Homo sapiens: one gene and its partners. The protein of the gene in region 2 purifies or fractionates together with the protein of the main gene of each other region. This does not show direct contact. Each region holds a gene or a part of one and is shown on either strand. Other genes may lie near its edges. The genes, in order: NUDT12, MZF1, RNASEH1, LBR and ZMYM4.

Region 1 (3,984 bases), on a different chromosome or scaffold from region 2:
CACAATTTTTCTAACTTAAAACTTTGTAACCTTTTTCATTGAGAAATTATTTCTTTATAGCAAAGCAAATTTATGAGGAGTCTAATTATAAATTTTCCTCCCAAATAGAAAATGCAGATCTCACTATGACTACCAAGGACTTCTTGTAGAATTTTGGTATCTCTTTATAGTGCATAAAGCTTAATACTGTTTTATTTTGTGAGTAATTATCCAGAAAGTGTAAGTATCCACTGTCTCTTAACTTTTTGTCATTTATGATTGTTCTTTTAACCTTCCCAATAGTAAACTATGTAACAAAAGAAAAAAAATCTATGTAATCATTAAAAAGAAGGACTTTAATATGTATCTGGAAATATTTTAGTGAAATAAATACGGAGAAAGTGTTTACTTCCTATTTTACTTTTTCTCCCCAATTTTTTCTTCCATCTATAGGTGTGACAGATCAATTGTCAATAAATCAAGGCAGACTGCACTGGACATTGCTGTATTTTGGGGTTATAAGCATATAGCTAATTTACTAGCTACTGCTAAAGGTGGGAAGAAGCCTTGGTTCCTAACGAATGAAGTGGAAGAATGTGAAAATTATTTTAGCAAAACACTACTGGACCGGAAAAGTGAAAAGAGAAATAATTCTGACTGGCTGCTAGCTAAAGAAAGCCATCCAGCCACAGTTTTTATTCTTTTCTCAGATTTAAATCCCTTGGTTACTCTAGGTGGCAATAAAGAAAGTTTCCAACAGCCAGAAGTTAGGCTTTGTCAGCTGAACTACACAGATATAAAGGATTATTTGGCCCAGCCTGAGAAGATCACCTTGATTTTTCTTGGAGTAGAACTTGAAATAAAAGACAAACTACTTAATTATGCTGGTGAAGTCCCGAGAGAGGAGGAAGATGGATTGGTTGCCTGGTTTGCTCTAGGTATAGATCCTATTGCTGCTGAAGAATTCAAGCAAAGACATGAAAATTGTTACTTTCTTCATCCTCCTATGCCAGCCCTTCTGCAATTGAAAGAAAAAGAAGCTGGTAAGAAATGAATGCTGCTTTTCATTGGTAAAATCTGGTTTTTAGACTTGAGTTGGAGTTGTATGTATTTGCACTTTCCAGGGGCACTCTTTTTCCAGTAAGCAGTGAAATTAGACTGTCTTCATCAGAAACTTCTTAAAGTTCTCACCCTAGGGGACTACTCTCCTGGGCAGTTAGTAGTTCTAATCAGCCCAGACTGATTTCCTGAGAATTAACCCTGGTGCATGATGATCTCATTTGATTCTTCATTGAATAATTCTTAGTTCCTGCTACACGTAGAACATGATGGCAAAGACTTTGACTGTTTTGTTTTGTATTCTGTTGATGGGGCTTTTTATGGCATGGTAAGAAATTGGGGTTTGATTCTAAAGCCATTTAAATGTAACCTAACCTGTGTTTAAAATATTTTTTTAAAAAAGACACTGCACACTGGCTGCATCATAGAGCATAAATTGTACACATGTAAGTAAGTAAGTGTGAAAGTTGGGAGTCTTGTTAAGAGGGAATTGAGTATTACAGGTGCCCAAGTAAGAGATTGCAATGGCTTGAGTTAGAATGGAGGCAGTGGAGATGGAGACAAAGGGAGAATCTGAGGTATTCTCGAGGTAGAAGGGATAGGGCTTGATCTGTAGGTTGAGACCCTTATAAGTGAGAGATGGTGGTAATATGGCATGAATTAAGGTACTGATAGTAGAAATGGAGGAAAGAGGGTATATGCAAGATAAAGTTTGGAGAGAAAATCACTGGTCTTTGCTATTGAATTGGATATGGGATATATAATAATGAAGGAAAAGATTAAGAATGACTGCTAGGCTAGAGACTTTAATAATTTGGTATATAGTGATACCATTTCTCAATAATATAGGATGATGGTTAGAGCAAGGAAAGCAGGACAGACTTGGATTAAAAAAATCAAGAGTTTACTTTTGGGCATACTAAGTTTTAGAAATGGACATTACAATCAGATGTCTGAACTGGAAATACCCATATGGCAGTCATCAACACACAGATACTTAAATCCCAAAAAACTACTGAGATTACTTGGAGAGTTGAGAGGAAGCAAGAAAAACTCAGAATAAGACCTGAATCCCCCTAAATTTAAAGGTAAGCTGCAAGCAGGAGAGCCATCAAAGGAGTTGGAAACAGTGTGGCCATGAGGTAGGAAGAGAGCAAGAGGCCTCAGGGAAACCAAGACAGCAGAGTATTTCCAGGAGGGAGTGGTCAAATGTATTGAATGCTGTTATGAACTTGAGTAAGATGAAGGCAAAGTGGTTTTTTTGTTTTGTTTTGTTTTTTAAAGCATCTTTGTCTTTGGTAATATGAAGCTATTGATGAACTTGACAAGAGAAACGTCAGTGGAGTGAAACGAACAGAAACCAGATTATGGTAGACTGATGAGTTACTGGGAAGTTAGGAATAGGTCACTTGTCAGTGACCACCTTCCCTTAGGTGATAGAGGTCCTTCCAGAGACTGCTTAAATATCTCCTCCTCAAAGTCTGGTGTGGTATGTTTTATTCTCCACACCTGTGGAGAAATCATCAAACTTTTTTAAGAAAATTTATTTTCTTTAGACATATATATATATATATATATATATCATTTTAAGATCAAAAAGATCTGATAAATGAGCTAGTTGCTTGCTTTTTTCCCTTGTAGGAAAACTGAGGCCTTTTAACTCACTTGCTCTATAAGTTTACACAGTTACTTAACTTTTCTGTGACTCAGTTTACTCCTAAAGAAAATGATAATAATAGTATCTATCTTCTTTAGGGTTGCTCTAAACATTAAATAATCTATATAAAATTCCTTGCATGGTGCTTGGCACATTGTAAGTACTCAATAAATGTTAGCTTTTCTTATTGTGATGATTCTGAAATAATGTAAATACCCTAGTGTAAGTTACATATTACAAGGTTACGTAGCAGGCAAAAACGTAATGTTGTCTATTCATTACAACTGTTTTATTTATTTTTCCCAGTTTAAACGATGTTAGAATTTTTGTTATTATTTTGTTCATTTCAAAAATCTGTAGACCAAATAATCTATTTTAGGGAGGGTAACTTTGTCAAGCATTTAACATATAGCATTTCTAGTCTTATTGCCTCAACTGTAATATTTCTGGCCAGGCCATATTAACTTTTTTTGAACTACCAGAGTAAAACCTATAGCTAAAGTGTATATATTTTAAGATTTATCCTATTAGGCATTTTTTGGTAAACAAAGTTAACCATGAATGTAGTAAATGCAGTGTGTTTTATACTGTGTACATGCAGTCTCCAGTTGAAAACAGGTTGTGTTCCACATGGCTTGGACCATCAATGGCATAGTCACCAAGAGAGTGGTGATAGCCTCCTACAGTTTCCTAGTAATATTTCCTTTAGAGTACAAATCTCACTTAAGAACTGACTTTGTGGTATATTTTTATTAAAATCACTATTGTAAAATCACTGTTTGTAAACTTACTCTACACTAGAATCATGAATACCCCAAATTTTAAAATCACCTACAGTAAAAGCCTGATCTAATATAGGATGTAAGATAGATGTCAGTATGTCTATCTTATATGAAAGTTATATTTTATTCAAACAAAAAAATCTAATTTTTGTAATCCAGAAAATTAAATCTTTTACTTTAAAAGAAGAATACGCATTATAAAAATAGAAATACTAAAACCCCTGATCACACAGCTATTCTTATTGTAGCTTGAGAACATTTTACTTATATATTGATTTTAATTTCTTACAGAATTAAAATTTTTGTGCTTTTCTTTTTTTTGAAGGGGTTGTAGCTCAAGCAAGATCTGTTCTTGCCTGGCACAGTCGATACAAGTTTTGCCCAACCTGTGGAAATGCAACTAAAATTGAAGAAGGTGGCTATAAGAGATTATGTTTAAAAGAAGACTGTCCTAGTCTCAATGGCGTCCATAATACCTCATACCCAAGAGTTGGTAAGCCCTTTATT
Region 2 (3,984 bases):
GAAACAGCCTCTCCAGCCTGGCTGGTGCCCTGCTCATTCACTTGCATGGCCAGAAGTACCAGGTACCTCCAACTCCTGAGTTTTTAGAATCTTCTTAGCCAGGCGCAGCCGCTCATGCCTGTAATCCCAGCACTTTGGGAGGCGGAGGCAGGTGGATTGTTTGAGTCCAAGAGTTCGAGACCATCCTGGGCAACATGGCAAAACCCTGTCTCTACTAAAAAATAATACAAAAAACTAGCTGGGCATGGTGGCACGTACTTGTAGTCCCAGCTACTTGGGAGGCTGAGGTGGGAGAATCACCCAAGCCAGGGAAGTCAAGGCTGCAGTGAGCTGAGATGGTGCCAGTGCACACCAGTCTGGGCAATGGGGGTGAGACCCAGTCTCAAAAAAAAAAAAAAGAGTCTTGGGAATAAAACTGTGCCTTTTCTTTGCAGCCAGAGAGGTTTATCTATCTATCTATTTATTTATGAAATGGAGTCTTGCTTTATTTATTTAAAGGACAGGGTTTTGCTGTTTTGCCCAGGCTGGTCTTGAACTCCTGACCTCAAGTGATCCTCCTGCTTCAGCTTTCCAAGTAGCTGCAATTACAGGCTCAAGTCACCACACCTGGCTCAGAGAGGTCTTTTTATGTCTTCATCAGGAGACTATTCTGAATAGCTAATACATTCATATGTTAGGAAATTCAAAAGGCACAAGACAGTATACAGTGGAATGCCCCTTCCCTGCCTGGGCCACACAGTCTTACTCTCCAGCAGCCAACACTGCTTGTTTCTTATGTGTCTTTGTAAAAAGATTCTGTACATACAGAAGCAAAGACATTCCCAGACACATGTTCATTCCCTTTTTTTTTTCTTTTGAGATGGAATTTCGCTCTTGTTGCCCAGGCTGGAGTGCAATGGCGCGATCTCGGCTCACTGCAACCTCCACCTCCCGGTTCAAGCCATTCTCCTGCCTCAGCCTCCCAAGTAGCTGAGATTACAGTCATGCTCCACCACGCCCAGCTAATTTTGTATTTTTTTAGTAGAGACGGGGTTTCCCCATGTTGGTCAGGCTGGTCTGGAACTCCCGACCTCAGGTGATCCGCCCACCTTTGCCTGCCAAAGTGCCGGGATCACAGGCGTGAGCCACCATGCCTGGCCCATTCCTCTTCTTTTTTTTTTTTTGAGACGGAGTCTCACTCTGTCGCCCAGGCTGGAGTGCAGTGGCACAATCTCGACTCACTGCAAGCTCCGCCTCCCGGGTTCACGACATTCTCCTGCCTCAGCCTCCCGAGTAGCTGGGACTACAGGCGCCGGCCACCACGCCTGGCTAAATATTTTGTATTTTTAGTAGAGACGGGGTTTCGCCGTGTTAGCCAGGATGGTCTCGATCTCCTGACCTCGTGATCCACCCGCCTCGGCCTCCCAAAGTGCTGGGATTACAGGCGTGAGCCACCGTGCCCAGCCCCATTCCTCTCCTTTAAAACACACATGGGCCCGGCGCGGCACGTCACGCCTGTAATCCCAGCACTTTGGGAGGCCAAGGCGGGCGGATCACGAGGTCAGGAGATCGAGACCATCCTGGCTAACACGGCGAAACCCCGTCTCTACTAAAAATACAAAATATTAGTCAGGCGTGGTGGCGGGCGCCTGTAGTCCCATCTACTCGGGTGGCTGAGGCAGGAGAATGGCGTGAACCCGGGAGGCGGAGCTTGCAGTGAGCTGAGATGGCGCCACTACACTCCAGCCTGGGCAACAGAGCGAGACTCCGTCTCAAGTGCGCACACACACACACGGGCTGGGCGTGGTGGCTCACACCTGTAATCCCAGCACTTTGGGAAGGCGAGGCGGGTGGATCATATGAGGTCAGGAGATCGAGACCAGCCTGGCCAACATGGTGAAACCATGTCTCTACTAAAAATACAAAAAATTGGCTAGGTGCGGTGGCTCACGCCTGCAATCCCAGCACTTTGGGAGGCTGAAGTGGGCAGATCACCTGAGGTCGGGAGTTCGAGACCAGCCTGACCAACATGGAGAAACCCTGTCTCTACTAAAAATACAAAATTAGCCGGGTGTGGTGGTGCATGCCTGTAATCCCAGCTACTCGGGAGACTGAGGCAGAAGAACCGCTTGAACCCAGGAGATGGAGGTTTGCAGTGAGCAGAGAACACGCCATTGCACTCCAACCTGGGCAACAAGAGCAAAACTACGTCTCAAAAAAAAAAAAAATACAAACAATTAGCCAGGCATGGTGGTGCACGCCTATAATCCCAGCTACTCAGGAAGATGAAGCAGCAGAATCGCTTGAACCCGGGAGGCAGAGGTTGCGGTGAGCCGAGATCACACCACTGCACTCCAGCCTGGGCGACACAGCAAGACTCAGTCTCAAAAAAAAAAAAAAAAAAAAAAAAAAAAAAAAAAAACACACACATGGATGCTTATTCTCCACCCTGTTCCACATCTGGCATTTTTTGTGCATCTTCCAACTTAAGTACACAGCAGCAAGTGCTCTACATCTTTGGGTAGCTACACAGAACCCCACTGTGGCTCACTGTGGACACACCATTGAAAACCTTGTATGTAGGTCACTTAGTACAAGGAGGAACACAACTGTTGAAGAAGTACCTAAAAATTGAATTACTTGAACAAAGTGTGGGACATTTGCTGTTTTGATGGATTTTACCACACTGTCTTCCCATTTATGCTTACCAGCAATACATAGGAACACTTGGGTCCCTGCAGTCAGGGTGTGGAAATGGCAGATGAGTTCAGCCCTAAGGTGCATTTTTCTTACTAGGAGGAGATGGAGTGTATTTTATGGGATATAAGCATTAGCTACATTTCCTGTCCTGTTCACATCCTTTGCCCATGTGTCTATGAGGTTATTGATCTTTCTTACTGATTTATTGTAGCTCTTTACTTAGGAGGTTAATTAGCCTTTTGCCTGTGGAGAGTTTTTTGGTTTGCCATTTGTCCTTTTTTAATTTTTTTTGTTTTTTGGCCATTTGTCTTTTGACTCTGATGTGGTTTTTGCTGATTTCCTTTGATGTATTCTAGTTTATCTGACTTTTCTTTGGCGACTTATGGACTTTCTCTCACCACTAAAAGCCCTCACTGCTCTCTCAGTCTTCTTGATTTAACCTCCTCCAGGCTTCCGCCTTCTCCAGGCCCTGATTCTCAGTTGGAGTTGCTGGTGCCTCCTCCTTCACCCAGCGTCTGACGCTGGAGTGCTCACAGTGTGGCTGGGACCCACTTCTCTCCTCTGTAGATACCCACCCCTGTGTTGATCACTTGCAGGCCCGGGTTCTGTGTGCCATGTGTATGCCCTAGAGCCCTTGCTCACGTTTCCCCACAGCCTTCATGAAGTCTGTGTTCCTCAGATGCCCCACAGACATCACAAGCAAGGCACATCCAAACCCCAGACCACTATCCAGGAGCCTGCACCCTCTTTCTGTTGGCTCCACCTCCAGCCTCCGAGACCCACCCACTTCCCTGCATTTGCTGAGACCATCATTTTCCACCTAGACAATGCCCCCACGCTTGCCCTACAGCCCTTCCAAAAACGATTTTTTCCAACCTAAATCAGACCTAGAAAGCTTTTTCACATAGCCCAGTCTTCCTCCTTGTGCTGGGTTCTGTCTCATTATCACCTCATCAGGGAAGTCTGTACAGATAGAATCCCTACCCCTGCATTTGTCGCCTCCGTCTGCCTCTTTGGTCAGTTTCAGGTCCCTGTAGTTCACACTGTGTCCCCAGGGATGAAGTGGGTCCCGGCACGGTGGGCATTCTGTCATGAATGAATGGTCCCCTTGTGTATGCAGGGTTCGCGCTGCAGCTAGGCAGCATCTCCGCAGGTCCAGGTAGTGTAAGCCCTCACCTCCACGTCCCCTGGGACCTCGGCATGGCTGGCCTTTCTGGCCAGATCCAATCACCCTCCCGCGAAGGTGGCTTTGCGCATGCGCTTCTGCTCCCCAGCGATCTGAGGAGTGAACAGGACCCCACGGAC
Region 3 (3,984 bases), on a different chromosome or scaffold from region 2:
ACAAGGATGTGGAGTGAACTGGAACTCTCCTGCCTGACTGGAGGGAATGTAAAGTGTAAAGTTCACACTTGGAAAAGTTTCACAGTTTCTTAAAAAGCACACACCAGCTGGCTGGGCTCACACTGTAATCCCAGCACTTTGGGAGGCCGAGGCAGGCGGATCACGAGGTCAGGAGATTGAGACCATCCTGACTAACACAGTGAAACCCCACCTCTACTAAAAATACAAAAAAATTAGCCGGGTGTAGTGGCGGGCACCTGTAGTCCCAGCTACTCGGGAGGCTGAGGCAGGAGAATGGTGTGAACCCGGGAGGCAGAGCTTACAGTGAGCCAAGATCACGCCACTGCACTCCAGCCTGGGTGACAGAGTGAGGCTCCATCTCCAAAAAAAAAAAAAGAAAAAAAGAGCACACACCTGCCATATGACCAAGCATTCCATTCCAAGGCATTTACCCAAGAGAAACAGAAGACAAAGACGAGGATATAAATGTTCACGGCAGCTTTATTTGCTTTATTTTTATTTAGAAATTGGAAATAATCGAAATATCGGTCAACAGGTAAATAAATAAACTGTGGTATATCCATGCAATACAAAATGTGGATTATTGATGTACACAAAATGGGTGAATGCCAAAATAATTATGCTGAGTAGAAGCACCTCCCCCCACAGTACTTGCTCTGCGATTCCACTCAGATAAAATTCTAGAATATATAAATTAACCTTTAGTGAGAGGGAGCAGACCAGTGGTTGCCTGAACATGGAGGACACGAGGGACGGTTTAGACCGGGGTGTGAAACTGCTGTTGGTGGTGATGGACATGTTCTGGCGACAGCTTCACAGGCAAATGCATCGGTCACTTCACGTATGTGCAGTTCATTACCTGTCAGTTACACCTCAACAGAGCTGTTTTAAAAAGCAAGGTGGGGCCGGCTTTGGTGGCTCACACCTGTAATCCCAGCACTTTGGGAGGCCAAGGAAGGAGGATCGCTTGAGGCCAGGAGTTTAAGACCAGCCTGGGCAACACAGTGAGACACTGTTCCTATTTTAAATAACAAAACAAAACAAAAGTGGTACAATAACAACTTTTAAAACTCAAAAAGAAACAAAGAAAGAGATAAAAGAGATTCAAGAGACAGTGGCAAACACTGAGAACAGCCAATTTAGATTTCAACATACAGATAACAGGGATCCCCACAGAAAAAAGCCAAAGCAAGAAAAATGTAACACTAAACTCCAGTTCAAGCAAATCTTCTTAAAATAACAGATATGAAGTACACATAGAAAGAGCACACCATACGCTTGCAAATATGGACCAGGACAACCAATACCAACACATGACACATTCGAATAAAACGGCCGACTTGACAGAAAAAGGAAAAAATCCTTTGGGCATCTAAGGAAAAACAGCATATGACTGTCAGGGGAAGAAAACAAGATTCATCAGGCTTTTCATGCATCACTTTATGCTGGAAGAAAACAGAATAAAACAAGATACTCAAAGAAAATCTGGGCCAAGAATTTCGTATCCAGCAAAACTGAATTCAACATCAGAAACTCAAGGAATACTGTCCCCAAGATGACACTGACTATAGACTGGTTATGAGACCTGAACACACAGAAATGAGTCAATGGTGGTAAAAAGGAGCAATTTTTCTGACAACGTAGACACAGTGCTGTTTTCATCATCACAATTAATGCTATGGTATTAGTATTTTTTTTAAATGCTAAATGCTAAAGAGGAATAAAACAAGTGAGTGATTAAGGGATGGATATTCCATGCCATTGTCCTGTGTCTTGAGAAGCAGGATTCCGAGTGCAGGAGACACAGACATCATATAGAGGAGGCTATGTAAAGGCCCCAGGACCCTGAATTTGTATTGGGAATATCAATATAGGCTCAGAAAATATTCTTCCTTTAAATATGTGTGTGCAATGTTTGTATTTTTTTAAAGCTCCGTCCAAAAATCTAGAAATAATGACCAACGCAATAGCAATGAGCATCCTAAACTGGATCTGAAATACCATCTCTACCAGAGACTCTGGGAAAAATAATGGATTCCAAGTGTTAAACGGAATTAAGTTTGGCCTAAAACTGCCTCTGTACATAGTGACTTATAACCTCACTTAATGTATAAGCAAACTGGGACCTGACTTGAGAGTACACTTCTGTAACAAGCAGCAGAGTCTCACCAATCACATGCTGAAGGCTCCCAAAACATGCCTATGTGAGGTGGAGGCTGACCTGCAGTCAGTCTGGCCATGTACATGTGTCTTTCCCTTCCTGTGGCTATAAATAAATACAGCCTGCACACAACGCACAGGAGAACGTTCTGAACCACTTTTGGTCCTGAGTGCTACCCAGCTGAAGAAACTATTTTCTGCTCAATTAAACTGCTAACTTGTCTAAAGTTTTTCTTTTAAGACAGGTTTGGAGCAGAAGCTCTATAAATTGGGCCTAGAGCATCTTGACATGCCAGGCTGCAGGGAGCTATCAATGACTGTGCGTGTGGTCTGTGCACACATGTATGCACACATGTGCACACTTATCAAAAGAAAGCAAGAGCCAAGCTGAAGAGGCTCCCTCTCACTGACCGAATAAGCTAGTCTGAGCTAAATAAAGATAAAAATCACAACGGATTGAAACCCACCAAGTATGCTTAACTCCACAAATTCTTTTTTTTTTTTAAGACAAGGACTTGCTGTCGCCCAGGCTGGAATGTGGTGGCATGGTCACAGCTCACGCATCCTCGACCTCCTGGGCCCAAGCGATCCTCCCATCTCAGCCTCCAGAATAGCTGGGACAACAGGCAGGCACTACCACACCCACCTGATTTTATTTTAATTTTCTGTAGAGACAGGGTGTCACTATGTTGCCCAGACTAGTCTCAAACTCCTGGGTTCATGTGATCCTCCAGCCTCAGCCTCCCAAAGTGCTGGGATTACAGGCATAAGACACCATGCCCAGCCCATGAATTCTTGTATATATGTAAAAACCCTTCACCACTCACCTTCCTTGACAGACAACTAATGCATTATCTTAAAAACTTAGTGTACAAGAGCAAAGAATCAAGCATTTATCCTGCCCTTCCTATATGAACTGTACCACTGGGTAACCAGATAAGTATAAAAAAGAAAACACTTTCTTAGAAAACCATTCCAGCTAATAAAGGCAAGCAAAACGACAGAATGAGAATACCACCATTTTGCAACCCCAAATAATTAATGGATCTTGGCACTGAGCATCAGCTGCCGTCAACATGGTACTTTCCTGAGGAAAGCTCCTAACCGCCTGTTCTCCTGCCAAAGGGATCAAATTTGAGGCTCATCAAGCCTCTGGACCCAGCTGCCAATGTGCAGGAAACATAGAGGACCATGCTGAACTACACCATGACCACGTGGTCAGCAAAATCTACACTGTGGGAAGCCATGGGACAAACAGCCCAGGCTCTTCAACAGATAAACGGCAGGGAAAACAGTGAGGCCGACGGGACTGCAAATGGACACTGAAGTAGATAAAAAAATAAACAAAAAAAAGCAGACAAGACTAAACTGCCATCAAAAAACCAAGAAAGTCATTTCTGTAAAAGTCAGGATTACTTGTTGGGGCAAGGAGGGGGAGAAGAAGAGGGCTGTGGCTGGAGGGGCACTTGGGAGAGCCTCCTGGGGTATCTGGCAAAGTACTATTTCTTCACCAGGTGGTGGACACAAAGGTTATTCACCTTACAATCATAATCATTCAATAAGCTATACATTTGTTTTGTGTCACTTCCTGTATGTTTTTATAATAAAAAGGTTTAAAACTAAATAAATAATCATGTCAAACTTTTACTACTTTTTTTTTTTTTTGAGACAGAGTCTCACTCTGTTGCCCAGGATGGAGTGCAGTGGTGCAATCTTGGCTCACTGCAACCTCTGCCGCCTGGGTTCAAGTGATTCTTGTGCCTCAGCCTCCCAAGTAGCTGGGACTACAAGCCCGTGCCACCA
Region 4 (3,984 bases), on a different chromosome or scaffold from region 2:
TAAAAATACAAAAAATCAGCCAGGCATGGTGGTGGGCGCCTGTAGTCCCAGCTACTCGGTAGGCTGAGGCAGGAGAATGGCGTGAACCCAGGAGGCGGAGCTTGCAGTGAGCTGAGATTGCGCCACTGCGCTCCAGCCTGGGTGACAGAGCAAGACTCTGTCTCAAAGTCTGTGTGCCTTCTATCCAGAAAAGAGGTTAACATTAAGTGAATAGAAGATTACTTTTATTCTTTTTACTTAACATACTTTGTCTTTGGTCTACTATCTAAAATACTATTTGTACAAGATCTACAGGCTCCATGCACCCTGATATTTCAAAGCTTACATCTTGAAAGTAATTCCACTAAAATCATCTTTGAATAGGTAAAGTGATAAAGTATAATGATGCTAAGAGTAAGAATGTTTCCGTAATACAGGTTTGTCTTACCATTTCATACATGATATGAACTTTTATACACTGTAAAAACCTTACGCAGTTCAATCTACAAGCTACATCTATTTCAAATTTGAACGCTGCTTTTTTAAAAACTAAAATATTAAATAGCATTTCTGGTAACTGAAGGACATTCTTTTCCATTGATATTTAAAACTTTCTATTCCAAACATTTGTTTTATATGAAAACTCCCAAAGTCATCAACTTAGATTTGATGTTTCAGTGACATTTTAATATTATTAACTGCAAGTAACTTGAGTAAATATATACATAAAGCGGAAGACAAAAGGCTGTATAAGGATAAACACAAGTACCAGAATCAGCGGAGTCAATTTAACTTCCACTTCCCTCCTTGCTTCCTTAATGTCGGCCTGGTGGGAAGCAGAAGCAGATCGGCGGGCACTTTTAGGTGGTCGACCAGGGGATCGGGAGCGTGACCTTGATCGACTCCCTCGGCGTCTGGAAGGGGAACTGGAAGTTGAGCCACCTTTCCTTTGCCTAAAGGAAGTTAAAGGCTAGAAAGGGGGAAGAAGGCAAAGAGCTTTACCACAAATCATAACACATACAGACAGACCCACACTAGAAGAGGATAACAAAGGCAGGAACTGCTACCATTAACTCTAAAATCAGCACGGGAAATGTTAGGATCTGAGAATGGATCAGATGAAGCCAATGGAAAATGCTTTCATAATGATCCATCTTTCATGAGACAAATGCAGCCTTTCCATTCCTGTTCTTTGAAGGTATTTCCATGAAACGAATGTATCTAAACCAATTAGCTGTACTTATTTCCAACACCATATGCAAGAAGGGTAATAATTAACATGGATTAAAACTGAGACGACAGGACAAAATAAATAAGCACACAGACCAAAAAAAAAAAAACAGTACCACAGTTTCACTCTGAACAAAACACATAAGCAGATCTTGAAAATAAAACATGAGCTTGGATGACTGGGAACTGTTTCACTGTGTCCCCACCTACTCCGAATCTCCTTATGTTGCTTCTAGGGATGTAGACAAATTACGCCCCAGGCCAAGTCCCTCACCCCAATTTTTGTGTGGCCTTCCTACTAAGAATGGCTTTTACATTCTTAAATGATTACAAACAAAATCAAAAGAACAGTATTTCCTGAAGTGTGAAAATTATCCAAAATTCAAATTTCACTGTCCATAAAGTTGTACTGGAACACTGCCATGTCTGCTCCCTTCCATACTGCCTGGAGCCGCTCCCATAAAGTCTAAAATATTTACTTTCTGTGCTTTATTCCTGGTCTAGAGCACTCGAAGTGTCATCCTCAGCCATGGGTCCTAGAAATGCTCGTTACTAATCTGTGCAAGTACCAAAATTGAGAAATAGGTGTATGGAAATGTTTATAGCATTTTGACAAAGTAATCTCATATCTATCGAATCTGATAGTAAAACTGTGAGTCGTCTATTGTGTATGTCTTTATTTTTCTAGTAACTCATTTTTATGGCATTTTATATAAATGTTTGTATACTACGGATCAGATATCTTAAAACCCAGGCCCTCACCAGACAGGTTGAAAAGCCCTGGGCTAGACTCGAATCTAATTAATGTCACTCTCCTGATTAAATCCTTGGTGTTCAGGATGAAGCCCAAACCCTTGGGCATGGAATATAAAAGCCCCCCCAGCCTGGCTCCTGCTTAGCCCTCCCCTACCACCCCCTTCCAGCACTTGGCTGACTGTGTCCCCCAGACCCCTGACTTTGGCATACTGCCCTCTCTGCAGAAACAGCCCCATCAACTGCTGTTTTTCCTGTTTGTTCTCAGCACTTGGCTAGGTGTCACTGCCTCTGAAAGCCTCCCCTGAAGCCCAGGGCTCTTCTCTACCCTTGATACACTCAACACCACCCACAGCAAACTCCAGACACAGAACGTAGTAAACCCAGGGGACCAACAGATGCAAATGGCTGTCTTTCCCAGTAAGTGTGAGCTTCTTGGGAACAAGGACTATGCCTCATTCATACATTCCCAGAGCCAAAAACAGTATGTGACCCAAAGCAAGAGCTCAATCCTCTGCCTTCAAACCGAGCTGAACTGACTATCCTGAGCTTAGAAACCATACTTAGAGTTATTTCCCACTTACTGTAAACACACTCTGATAAACCAAAGGAGCTCTTACCTTAATATCATTCTCTTTCAATTCAAGCTCTGTTCCATCTTTATACTTCACAGTGTAAAGCTGGGAGGTGCTGTCGTGGCTCAGAATTTCTACTTCATAATAAAGTGAACTCCCAGGCCATCGACCTCTTACCACTTCACCATCGGCAAATTTCCTACTTGGCATTTTCTATAATTAACCTGAATAGTTTTAAAGAAAAAAATTTGAGTCAATACATACACATTTATGTATTCGTCTTTTTCCACAGGCTGATCACTAAAATACAACTTTCCAGAATTGACTGGTCAGGATTTTAGGGCCAGAAAGGCTACATTCAATCTCATTTGGAATCATTTGAGAGGATGATTTAGCCACTGCGTTATCTATGTGACACTAAAGATTAATTATAACAATGTATATAGGCGCCATAAGTTCACACTATGTAAAATGTTACCCACCTACCGTGATCACAGTTCTCGCTAATCAAAAAATGAGGCACAATCTCACAAAGAACACATTTTCTCATTTGTAAATTTGCGTATCAATTTACAATGGCTTTAAAAATGCATTTAATTGTATTTTTAACAAATTGCCTTTATTAAAAACAGCAAACTATAAACCAGACTGGGAAAATCAAGGATGTACAATTAACATGACTATAACCCAACAATAGGAAGAAAAATAATTCCAAGTCTGTAATGAATAAATTTGGGGGTTATTTAGCTTTCAACTCTTACAGCTAAAGTACAAATGCATACCAAGTAACTCTGCCAACCACCCACCTAAGCCAGGGTGGTTGCCTTCATCCAAGCTCACTTCTCTCAAGCCTACAGCAGCCATCAACCCCCAATTATAACATTCTTTTCCTCTGATTCAAAACATGGCCCACAAGCCCCACAATACTCTAGGAATCCACAAGCAATCTGCAAGAACTGCCACTTACGTGAGGCCTGTCTGCCACCCTTTTTGAAATATCAATTGATAGCTGGGTACTTCCAGCTGCCAGACAGTAATGCCGCTCCATCGGCTGACCAGCGGAATCACATTTCCACACAACAAAACCAGGGCTGCCGACCTTCCCCAGTACCACATGAACTAGCTGGGGCCACGTCCAAGGGGCAGCCAGTAGGACAGATATGAGCTGTCTCCCAAATCACCTTCATTTCACCAACTAAGCACTTCTTGATGTATTGTCCAAGCCTATCAATGTACATTCCTCACTGGCTCCTGTTAAGAGCTGATGATACAATAAAAGCAACATTTAGGAACCTTTGAAGACTCTGGAATTAAGGAGAAAGTTGAATTACCTACCCCAAGGGAGTAGTGGGAGAGTGGGGGGGGAGGCGGGGTGAGGGAGGCCTTTCTTAACCACCACATTTTTTCACTGTTAATCGTCTGTGAAAAAACTTAACAAGCTCTACTA
Region 5 (3,984 bases), on a different chromosome or scaffold from region 2:
GCTTGTGCAACTTACTTTACCAAAAAAAAAGTCTCACTCTGTCATCCAAGCCGGAGGGCAGTGGCACAATCTCAGTTCACTGCAACCTCCACCTCCTGGTTCAAGTGATTCTCCTCCCTCAGCCTCCGAAGTAGCTGGAATTACAGGCACCCGCCACCATGCCTGGCTAATTTTTTGTATTTTTAGTAGAGATGGGATTTCACCAGGTTGGCCAGGGTGGTCTGGAACTCCTGACCTCAAGTGATCTGCTGGCTTCAGCCTGCCAAGTGCTGGGATGACAGGCGTGAGCCATCACGTCTGGCCCCTCTACAAATCTTTTTTTAATTCGCCAGTGTGGTGGTACACGCCTGTGGTCCCAGCTACTCAAGAGGCTGAGCTGGGAGGTTCACTTGAGCCTGGGAGGTTGAGGCTGCAGTGAGCAGTGATTGCACCACTGCATTCCAGCCTGGGCAAGAGAGCAAGACCTTGTCTCAAAAAAAAAAGAGAAAAAACAAAAAGAAAGAAAAGAAAAAGAAAGCACTTCCACAGAAGTCTGACAGTCTCAAACCTTCTAATATAAACAGAAAGATAGGAAAATATAAGCTTCCCCCAGATTAAATGTCATTTCAGAAAAAGAGCCAATTCATACCATCTTTACAAAACACAGATACCCTCAAATAATTGCTGCTATTGCATATTCGTCCCTTGGACCCCTTCTTGCACTTCAAAATGATTGCAGCATCTGATATAACTTTTTTCTTCTATTCCAACAACAGCAACATCATTAACTGCATGGATAGCTTAGCTGACTTCAGGACCTCACAGTTTTAAGATCTCTATGATTTTATCTCCAGAGCAACCTTGAAATAGCAGAGCTCTACCTTCACTCTTATTACTCACAGATCTCAAACTTGGAATCATGTATCATTCATCAAAGCCTCCTTTACCTTCTATCCACTAATCCAATGAACTGGTTCTTCAATCAATTAACCCTTCCAAAGATGATCTGTCCATTAACCCCTCCTGAAAAATATTTAAATCCATATATAGCCTGTACTTCATTAGCATTAACTGCAAAAGGCTTACTATCCTACATAAACTTGATTGCACCACAAACTTATAAACTACCATAAATCTTCAACCATATCTGCTGTATAGTTCTCAAAGCCTTGCGCTAAAATGCATTGCAAAAATCACAGTGGTATTAAGAAACAAAGATGATTAAAAGCCTTAATTACTACTCAGGAAAAGTTTCATATAGCTCGTTAATGCCTTATATGGTAATTCAAATCGCCTCAACCTTCTTTAAGAGTTTCCTTTCACCCTGTCAACAAACTATTTCACTTCTTAAGCACTTCCTCTCTCAAATGAATAATTCAATGTGTGGAACAAAAAGAAGGGGGGAAAAAAGGTGAAATGTTTACTTGAGCATTGTCAGGTTCATCTTTTATTTTGTCTAGTAGTCCCTGCTGTGGTGCCATTGCTTTGTCATACTCATCATCCAAAGGTTCTTCTTTAATTCTAATATTTGATGCAAAGGAATTCCCCAGTTCCGAACCAATGGATTCTTTATTGGCAAATGGGTAGCTGGAATCCTAAAACACAATATAAAGGATTAATAAATATTCAGATTTTAAAATGATTCCTCTTCAGGTTTAACACCCAAAGAAAAGCTCATTGGAAATGAAGAACTCTATGGACATTCATTAGCTTTTGGATCTTATGCCTACGCCTAAAAGTAATTGTGTTATATGTCCAAATACCAAATACAAATAAAGACCCTAAGATTTGAGGCTTTTTAGAATGTCTCCGATGATGACCTTAAACAAATATTAAGCAAATTAAAAAAAAAAAATCAGTGCTCTACCTAATACATTGTTAGAATTTAGAAACTGACATAAAGAAAACTTTGACACTTGTCACAGTTACAGCAATCTACATACACACTGAAAACTTACCCTAAAGTTTGTTTCTGGGGTTTGTGGTAAATGGGTATGTAATGTTTCTTCAACTTGATTAGCTATTGAAAGGAAAAAAAAAACAAACAAACACATGTATATGAATAACAAATCTTACAAAGAGTGACCTAAAAAGCTATCATTTGATAATCACCTCTCTTTTCCAACAAAGATGCTCGTTAGAGTGAACTGGGTCCCAAAAACACCCAAAAGGTATTTTCACTCAAAGTTCTGCACAATCTGGCCCCACCTAGCTTTTAGCCTTACCCTACATTTTTTCCTTGCTCAAACCTAAAAAAAAAAAAAAAAAAATTATTTTTGCTCTGAAAATTGCTTGCATTTGTTCTCCCCCATTTCTACTTATTCTATTCCAAGTCCCCTCTGTCTATCCTAATCTTTATACAGTTTTCCAGACTCAGCTCAGTTAAAAATTCACCTCTCCTCTATAAAACCTTCCCTGTTCACTAAGTTAAAAATCATCTCTCTTCTAAGAATCCCTAAAACACAGTTTCAGTTATTTGAAAGACATCTTTTTGAACTGCCTTATGACAAACTCTTCTACCACTGTCTTTAACTGTAAATTAAATCTTACGCTATTCAGCTGGACATTGGCACTTCTACGGCCTGACTTGTCTTGTCCATTCTACTACTAGACATTATGTTCCTTGAGAAACATGACTCTCATACCCCAAGAAGGGATATTGGAAATATATACTGAATTATAGAGAAAAATATAGTATATCCTTGCACAGACTTGTACATACTCAAAAGCTGTCTTTTTAACAATACTGGTTTGTTCTTTCTACCATACATTTCCTAGCATTGTTAGAAGAAATACAAGGACTGGTATAGAATACTTGCTTTCCTTCACAGCTATTGAACATTTATTGAAGAATTACTATTTTACTACACCAGGTTAGGCCCCAAGAATACAAAGATGAGTAAGATACAATCTGGCCCTCAACTCCTACACTAGTAGGTAAGGTAAAACAAATATAGAACTATAATACTGTGTGATAAGTACTATAAATAATGAGGCATGAAAATGCTGTGGAAATATAGATAAGGAAACCATTCTTGATGTAGAGCAGTTAGAATGATGACAGAGTAGAAGAGGTTTATGAGTTAGGCATTGTTGGATAAGAAGTACTTTCACAAGCAAATATACAGAGAGAAAATGACATGCAGGCAAATGGAATAGCAGGAGGAAAGGAAGGCATAGAAGGAAATATGTGATATATTCAAGAATGTTAACTAAAGCTAAAGTATAGGGTACACTGGGCAAAGAGGCTCAGGAGGAACCTCAAGAAACTTCTAAAACATAAATTAGAAATGTTTGGGTTTTTTTTATTAAAAAAAAACTCCCTTTCAGATAGAGGTGAGAGTTAATAAACAAAAAATTAAATTAAAATTAAAAAAATAAAATAACTCCCTAATTTGGACTAAGTGGTGAGACAGCAGTTTGAATTAGTGCTTACAGCACAAAGAAGTTAAATCCAACTTCAGGTTCCAATGTTCAACCAAAGAAAATGAACAGGTGATTCAAGTATCTTGCCTTTCTCATCAAAACATTGCAACCAGGGGAGGGAGAAATGAGGTTTAGAGCTATTTTCAACCATTTATACCATTACCAAAAGTTACTGGGAGAAATTCAGTCACTCTGCAAAGAACAAGGACAAAAGAAAAATGACAAGCTTACAATGAATTTAACCGTTCATACTTCACTTAACATCAAAAGTAATAAAAGCTATATATTATGATCGGTAATTTTTAATTGTGTTTTATGGTTCTAAGTCCAACAATTATTACCTGCTTTATCAAAAAAACTGCTTTTCAACCTTGAATCCAAATCTTTATGGGGTTTATCCAACCGTTTTTCACGTTCATAAGTTAGGTCTCTATTTTTCTCCTTTCCAGAAAATGTCTCTTTGCTGTTTTCTCTTACTAGACTAAAATCTTTCCGTATTGATTTAAAGACAGAAACCTGATCAAATTGTTTAGGAAAGTCTTTTTTTAACTTATTTTGAATTTGTATTTCATTTTCATT

Evidence for each region.
Region 1: the proteins of MZF1 (region 2) and NUDT12 purify together in Homo sapiens (affinity purification with mass spectrometry; one large-scale study listed by BioGRID and IntAct). This does not show direct contact.
Region 3: the proteins of MZF1 (region 2) and RNASEH1 purify together in Homo sapiens (affinity purification with mass spectrometry; one large-scale study listed by BioGRID and IntAct). This does not show direct contact.
Region 4: the proteins of MZF1 (region 2) and LBR purify together in Homo sapiens (affinity purification with mass spectrometry; one large-scale study listed by BioGRID and IntAct). This does not show direct contact.
Region 5: the proteins of MZF1 (region 2) and ZMYM4 purify together in Homo sapiens (affinity purification with mass spectrometry; one large-scale study listed by BioGRID and IntAct). This does not show direct contact.

Annotation. Positions count from the first base shown.
Region 1 is NC_000005.10:103,555,917-103,559,900, reverse strand, and holds part of NUDT12 (NAD-capped RNA hydrolase NUDT12), read left to right. Parts: intron 1-432; coding exon 433-1,022; intron 1,023-3,802; coding exon 3,803-3,970; intron 3,971-3,984. UniProt on the Homo sapiens protein: mRNA decapping enzyme that specifically removes the nicotinamide adenine dinucleotide (NAD) cap from a subset of mRNAs by hydrolyzing the diphosphate linkage to produce nicotinamide mononucleotide (NMN) and 5' monophosphate mRNA.
Region 2 is NC_000019.10:58,563,320-58,567,303, reverse strand, and holds part of MZF1 (myeloid zinc finger 1), read left to right. Parts: intron 1-3,799; coding exon 3,800-3,984. UniProt on the Homo sapiens protein: Binds to target promoter DNA and functions as a transcription regulator. Regulates transcription from the PADI1 and CDH2 promoter. May be one regulator of transcriptional events during hemopoietic development.
Region 3 is NC_000002.12:3,540,947-3,544,930, forward strand, and holds the end of RNASEH1 (ribonuclease H1 isoform 1 precursor), read right to left. Parts: 3' UTR 484-3,984; downstream 1-483. UniProt on the Homo sapiens protein: Endonuclease that specifically degrades the RNA of RNA-DNA hybrids.
Region 4 is NC_000001.11:225,421,329-225,425,312, forward strand, and holds part of LBR (delta(14)-sterol reductase LBR), read right to left. Parts: intron 2,762-3,984; 5' UTR 2,748-2,761; coding exon 2,583-2,747; intron 950-2,582; coding exon 749-949; intron 1-748. UniProt on the Homo sapiens protein: Catalyzes the reduction of the C14-unsaturated bond of lanosterol, as part of the metabolic pathway leading to cholesterol biosynthesis.
Region 5 is NC_000001.11:35,359,209-35,363,192, reverse strand, and holds part of ZMYM4 (zinc finger MYM-type protein 4), read right to left. Parts: coding exon 3,747-3,984; intron 3,592-3,746; exon of another isoform or gene 3,416-3,591; intron 2,000-3,415; coding exon 1,938-1,999; intron 1,575-1,937; coding exon 1,404-1,574; intron 1,003-1,403; exon of another isoform or gene 927-1,002; intron 1-926. UniProt on the Homo sapiens protein: Plays a role in the regulation of cell morphology and cytoskeletal organization.